Linked DNA regions of Homo sapiens: region 1 is linked to region 2. Evidence: fine-mapped expression QTL. A gene starts in region 2. The other region holds a variant in brackets. All regions are shown on one strand. Distances are from middle to middle.

What was found. PIP is the estimated chance that this variant, and not a neighbour inherited with it, causes the effect.
Region 1: its variant is fine-mapped to the expression of TAX1BP3 in whole blood (TOPMed, PIP 0.97).

What each region holds. Positions count from the first base shown.
Region 1 is chr17:3,590,503-3,593,397 of GRCh38, reverse strand. TRPV1 (transient receptor potential cation channel subfamily V member 1) reads left to right here. Exons shown (of 17, transcript NM_080704.4): 3 at 1,015-1,331; 4 at 2,045-2,211; 5 at 2,282-2,434. The coding sequence starts at 1,048. Among named protein-coding and RNA genes, the nearest start is that of TRPV1, 17 kb to the left of the region's middle. The variant A/G (reference allele first, on the strand shown) is at 1,301.
Region 2 is chr17:3,666,875-3,669,769 of GRCh38, reverse strand. TAX1BP3 (Tax1 binding protein 3) reads left to right here and starts at 1,192. Exons shown (of 4, transcript NM_014604.4): 1 at 1,192-1,282. The coding sequence starts at 1,244. EMC6 (ER membrane protein complex subunit 6) reads right to left here and starts at 958. Exons shown (of 2, transcript NM_031298.4): 1 at 871-958; 2 at 105-672. The coding sequence starts at 623. The coding sequence ends at 291. P2RX5-TAX1BP3 (P2RX5-TAX1BP3 readthrough (NMD candidate)) reads left to right here. Exons shown (of 15, transcript NR_037928.1): 12 at 1-712. RefSeq lists enhancers at 1-272, 273-803, 1,336-1,866, 1,867-2,398 and a silencer at 905-1,244.

The DNA.
Region 1 (2,895 bases), 76 kb after region 2:
CACATGCTGCTGCCAGCGGCCAGCTGATCTCTAGGTGTTTAGGCCTAGAAGACCAACCAGCTCCAAATCACTTAAAGCCTAAACGTTCCCTGTCTCTACTAAAAATACAAACATTAGCCACGCATGGTGGCGGGCGCCTGTAATCCCAGCTACTTGGGAGGCTGAGGGAGGAGAATCGCTTGAACCTGGGAGGTGGAGGTTGCAGTGAGCAGAGATTGCCCCATTGCACTCTAGTCTGGGCGACAGAGTGAGACACACAGACACACACACACACACACACACACACACACACACACACACACACACACACACACACGCCTAAACATTCAAGGCCAGGATGCTTGACAGATGTTGATTCATAAAAATGACAAAAAGCACAAAATCCAAAATCTCGTATAAGCTCAGTGGCTGTGGCAGCGAGGTTGAAGAGCAAAGGCAGGCCGGGCACCTGGCTGATGATGTGTGGACCCGTTGCACAGCAGGGCCCCGCAGTGCGGTGTGGGTGTGGGTGGGCCAGTCTCTGCCGCTCACCCTATTCCAGGGACACAGTCTGCTTGGCTCTTCTGGACTGAGCCATCCTCATCACCGAGATCCTCCCTGAATTCAGCCCACGACAGCCACCCCGGCCGTTTTCCTTGTTCTGTGTGGGGAGGGAGGCAGCGCGGTGGTTATCAACCTCACCCTGCAGAGGAGGCACCTGAGGCCCAGAGACGAGGAGGGATGGGTCTAACCCAGAACCACAGATGGCTCTGAGCCGGGGGCCTGTCCACCCTCCCAGGCCGACGTCAGTGGCCGCAGGACTGCCTGGGCCCTGCTAGGCCTGCTCACCTCTGAGGCCTCTGGGGTGAGAGGTTCAGTCCTGGAAACACTTCAGTTCTAGGGGGCTGGGGGCAGCAGCAAGTTGGAGTTTTGGGGTACCCTGCTTCACAGGGCCCTTGGCAAGGAGGGCAGGTGGGGTCTAAGGACAAGCAGTCCTTACTTTGGGAGTCAACCCCGGCGTGGTGGCTGCTGCAGGTTGCACACTGGGCCACAGAGGATCCAGCAAGGATGAAGAAATGGAGCAGCACAGACTTGGGGGCAGCTGCGGACCCACTCCAAAAGGACACCTGCCCAGACCCCCTGGATGGAGACCCTAACTCCAGGCCACCTCCAGCCAAGCCCCAGCTCTCCACGGCCAAGAGCCGCACCCGGCTCTTTGGGAAGGGTGACTCGGAGGAGGCTTTCCCGGTGGATTGCCCTCACGAGGAAGGTGAGCTGGACTCCTGCCCGACCATCACAGTCAGCCCTGTTATCACCATCC[A/G]GAGGCCAGGAGACGGCCCCACCGGTGCCAGGTAAGTCCGCGTCTGGAGCCCCCCTCCCTGCTGGGAGCCCAGCTGGCCATGGAGATGCCACAGGGTGGTCTGGCTTCTGGGCTAAATGTCACAAAGCCAGGGGGCTGGAGAGCCTTAGGGGTGGTCTGGTCCAGCGTCCTTCCTCATGTGACCTCGTGGGATGTGCAGTCACGGGGGCTGGTGTCTGTGCTGGGTCTAGGTGTCCACGCCCGCAATGCCTACCAGCCACAGACACTTGGACTTGAAGTCTAAAAGCTCAAGGGCAGGAGGCTTTTGGAGAGCACAGCACAGCTCCAGTGAGCTGCAAGGCAGGGCAGGGAGGGCCACAGGCTGGCTGACTTCTGGGGAGTGTGAGGCCACCTTTTCCCTTAGAGGGGCTGTCTACACCCCTGCCTCCACCTCCCTCCGTCCCCACCAGGCTCCTGCCTCCCGAGCTCCCGAGCAGGCAGAGAAGCCAGTGGTCTGGGAGTAGGAGGGTGACTTTCTAGATGGTGTCTATAGACAGGGTGGGGACAGAATGGGGACACATGCCCTCCACTGTCCCTGTTACATTGCTTTTCTGGACAGTCACCTAGACTGAGGGGCAGCTTTTATATCATTTTTCCCCTTTTTGGTTTGCCTTGGGATTTAGTCGTGTTCCCTTGACAAGCTCCGAAGGCCTCAGGGCCGAGGGGAGGCCAGGGTATGAGACGAGCGTGTTTTCTGGCCCACAGGCTGCTGTCCCAGGACTCTGTCGCCGCCAGCACCGAGAAGACCCTCAGGCTCTATGATCGCAGGAGTATCTTTGAAGCCGTTGCTCAGAATAACTGCCAGGATCTGGAGAGCCTGCTGCTCTTCCTGCAGAAGAGCAAGAAGCACCTCACAGACAACGAGTTCAAAGGTGGCCCCAGCGCTGGGCTCGGGGAGGGCCCCAGCCCTGGCCTGCCCTGACCCTCCCTTATGTCTTTCAGACCCTGAGACAGGGAAGACCTGTCTGCTGAAAGCCATGCTCAACCTGCACGACGGACAGAACACCACCATCCCCCTGCTCCTGGAGATCGCGCGGCAAACGGACAGCCTGAAGGAGCTTGTCAACGCCAGCTACACGGACAGCTACTACAAGGGTGAGGAGGGCGGCGGGGCCGGGCATGGCTCAGCCCGCAGCACCGGGAAGCAGGGGGGCATGGTTGTCCCTGGGCCTCCTTGCTTCTCTGGGATCCTTACTCCCTGTCCCAGCCACTGCGTTGGTGGCTCCTAATCCTAGGGGGTCCCTGCCTCTCCCATCTGCTGGCTTGATTTCTCCTGGTCCTGGGGGTCTCTGCCTCCCCGATCTGATGTCTCCTCTCTTGACCCTGAGAAGTCCCTGCCTCCCCCTGCTGACTGGATGGTCCCTGTCCCTGGAAGTCACAGCCTCTGGCCTTTCTCTCTGCTGCTGTTCCTTGCCCCCGGGGCAATTTTGACTCCTCTGGCTTCCAACCCGTTATTTCCTGTTCCCAGGGGTCTCCTGTCTCAGGACCTTGCTGGGACCCCTTGGGGGACCCTGGCCTGGCCTCCTGCAGTGGGGGGGTCCTCCAGGCACTTTCTG
Region 2 (2,895 bases):
TTAACACAAGGCTATGGCCCATTCCTTGCTCTCCAGGAGTCAAATCTCGGCGATTTTGCATCAGTGGCAGCCTAAGCGTTACAGCAGGAAAGAACTCCACAAAGTGTCTCACGCTTCATTTAATCTGAAGAATATTACAGGCTCTCCGTCTTCAGATATAAATTATTTATAACGTTACAGAACAAGCAGCGAATTCAACCACTTAAGAACTAAGGAAGTCTACATGGTGTTAATTGCTGGCCACAGTCCTCCCGATCTGGTTTTTTAAAAAAGTCCCCCGGGCCCCCATTTCAGTAGACGTGCACCATGCCGTAGAGGAACGTCCAGAACAGGACGTAGGTGAAGAGGCCCCCGATGAGGCCTCCTGTAAAGAGAGGTCTCCGTGATTTGAAATATTTGTTCCACCTCCTTCCCGCCTTGAGAATGAGGAGCAGGGAGAGCAGGACGGAGGCGAGCAGGTAGAAGATGAAGCCGTAGAGGCCGGTGAGGCCGAGGATGCCGGCCGTGGCCCCCGACAGCGCTGACACCGAGGTCCGGCAATAATCCAGGACGGCGGCGTTGCCCCGCACGGCCGCCTCGCTGATGAACGGCGGCCCTTCCCGCTTGGCCACCACCGCGGCCATCGCACCAGCCCGGGCTCGGCCTCTCGCTTTCTCGCGGAACAACGCGGAGCTGCGGAGAAAACCAAGTTACAAGTGGCGCCCGGAGCTCGGTGAGTTGGGTTCACGCCGCCCCCTCCCCCTGGAGCTTCCGAGACCTGGCACCAGTCCTGGGCCTCGGATCTTCCAAAGACGCCGAGGAGATTGAGGGTCCGGGCCGGCCGGGAGGTGGTGGCGCGTCTGCGTTCCCCGGCCACGGTGGCCCAGTTACCTGGAACACGGCGCCGGACACACTACTTAGCGTTCCCTCAGACGGGCAGTGGAAGAAATGCCCGCGGCGCCATCTTGCTCGGAAGACTGCCGGGAGGTCTCGGGCTGCGCACGCGCCCAGATCCCGCCCCGCCCTCCGCGCCTGCGCCGTGGGCGCCCCGGACACGCTCCGCCCTCTGCCCGCTTTTCTGCGCACGCGCAGGGACTTCCGAAAGCGGAGTGGCGCTCCGGCCAGTGATTGGCTGGAGGTTTGTTAACTATTCATGAGGGGGCGGGCCGAGCGGGGCGGCCTTTGTTAAGCAGCGAGGGCGCGACCGCGGGTACTCTGCTGCCGGCTTCTCGGAGCGGCGCTGGGCGACCAGAGCAGGGTCGAGATGTCCTACATCCCGGGCCAGCCGGTCACCGCCGTGGTGGTGAGTGCGCTTGCGCGGGCTCCTCCTCGTCTTGGCCTGACCCCACCTCGCAGAGCGGGAAACGGACACCCCAAGCAGGTTGACAGAGCATCGAACCCGGGGCTCCTGCGAACCGGCGGCAAGGGCTCGGGTCCCCGCTTTGCCGGAGCGGGCCGCAGTTCCCCCAGCCACGAAACAGGGATGGCCGGGACCCGAGAGCCTCCCGAGACCCTGGACAGAGCCCAGACTGCGTGCGCAGGGCGGGGAGGGCCACGGGGAAAGGCCTGGCTGCAGGAGCCTGGAAAAGCGCCCCCTTCCCGGGCCTCCGTGTCCCCAGACGGGGAGCTGCTGGGGGCGGGCGCCGATCCCGACGTCCATGAGTCGCAGCCTCTGGAATGAGGAAATGCTTCCTCCGCTGCAGCCTGCGCCGCCGCCCGGAGGGAGATCTGGGGGTGGGGCTCTCCCGAGCCTGCCGTGGCAGCCCCTGCCCCCTTCCTGTCCAGCCTTGCTCCTCCAACCCACTCGCCGCCTGGTCCAGGGTGGACGCTCGTATAGCTGCGATGAGCGTTTCCTCTTCGAACTTTTCCTGGGTCTCCAGCCCTTAAGGCAAAAAAGTCCAGGCCTCCCTCCTGGCACTTGAGTCCTGAGTAGACCCTCCGGGGGCTAGCCTAGGCCCCTGGCCGCCCTCTGGCTTGTTTTAGGTGCTGGGTGCTATTAGACTAGGCAGAGGGAGGAAGGAAGGCTGGGACGTTAGACTCAGACGCCGGTGTCACAGAGGGACACAACCCTATGACAGAGGTGGGGAGTCCCAGAGAGAAGTGCTCAGCCAGAAAAGACCACCTCAGGAAAGACTCAGGTCTCCTGCCTACCTCCCGACAGCGTTCAGAGAATGAGAAGAAATGCCTGCCCGGTGGGCAGTAGGTCAAGCGAAAGTCCCCGCCCTGGAGCCATAGGGACTGGGTGTGTTATCTCAGTTGGGTGTGCTGGAGAAGCTCCAGCAATCAGGTGGGTGGAGGCAGAGAAGCCACTGATAAAGGCGACAAGTGAGGCTGAGCTTAGAGCACTGGCTCAGGCCTGGGCCAGGAGGAAACATTGCTGGACCAGCTGACAGCTGTCCTAAGCTTCACCCTCCCTGCACCAGCTTGACTTTTTTTTTTTTTTTTTTTTTGAGACAGTCTTGCTCTGTCGCCCAGGCTGGAGTACAGTGGCGCGATCTCGGTTCATTGCAACCTCCGCCTCCTGGGTTCAAGCGATTCTCCTGCCTCAGCCTCCCGAGTAGCTGGGATTACAGGCATGCACCAGCATGCCCAGCTAATTTTTGTATTTTTAGTAGAACGGGGTTTCACCATGTTGGCCAGGCTTGTCTTGAACTCCTGACCTCTGGTGATCCACCTGCCTCAGCCTCCCAAAGTGCTGGGATTACAGGCGTGAGGCACCACACCCGGCCCAGCCTGGCTTTTTTAGATCCCTACCTGCCCCAGAGAGAAGGCACCAGGTTTGCTCTTTAGGTAGAAGGGGGGCAGGGACAGGTGAGGAGCTACAGCAAGCCACCTTCTGCGTGACCTCACCCAGCAAATCAGTGACAGCCCTGTCTCCCAACCCAAGGGCCTGTAATCTTCTGACCGTGCCGGCAG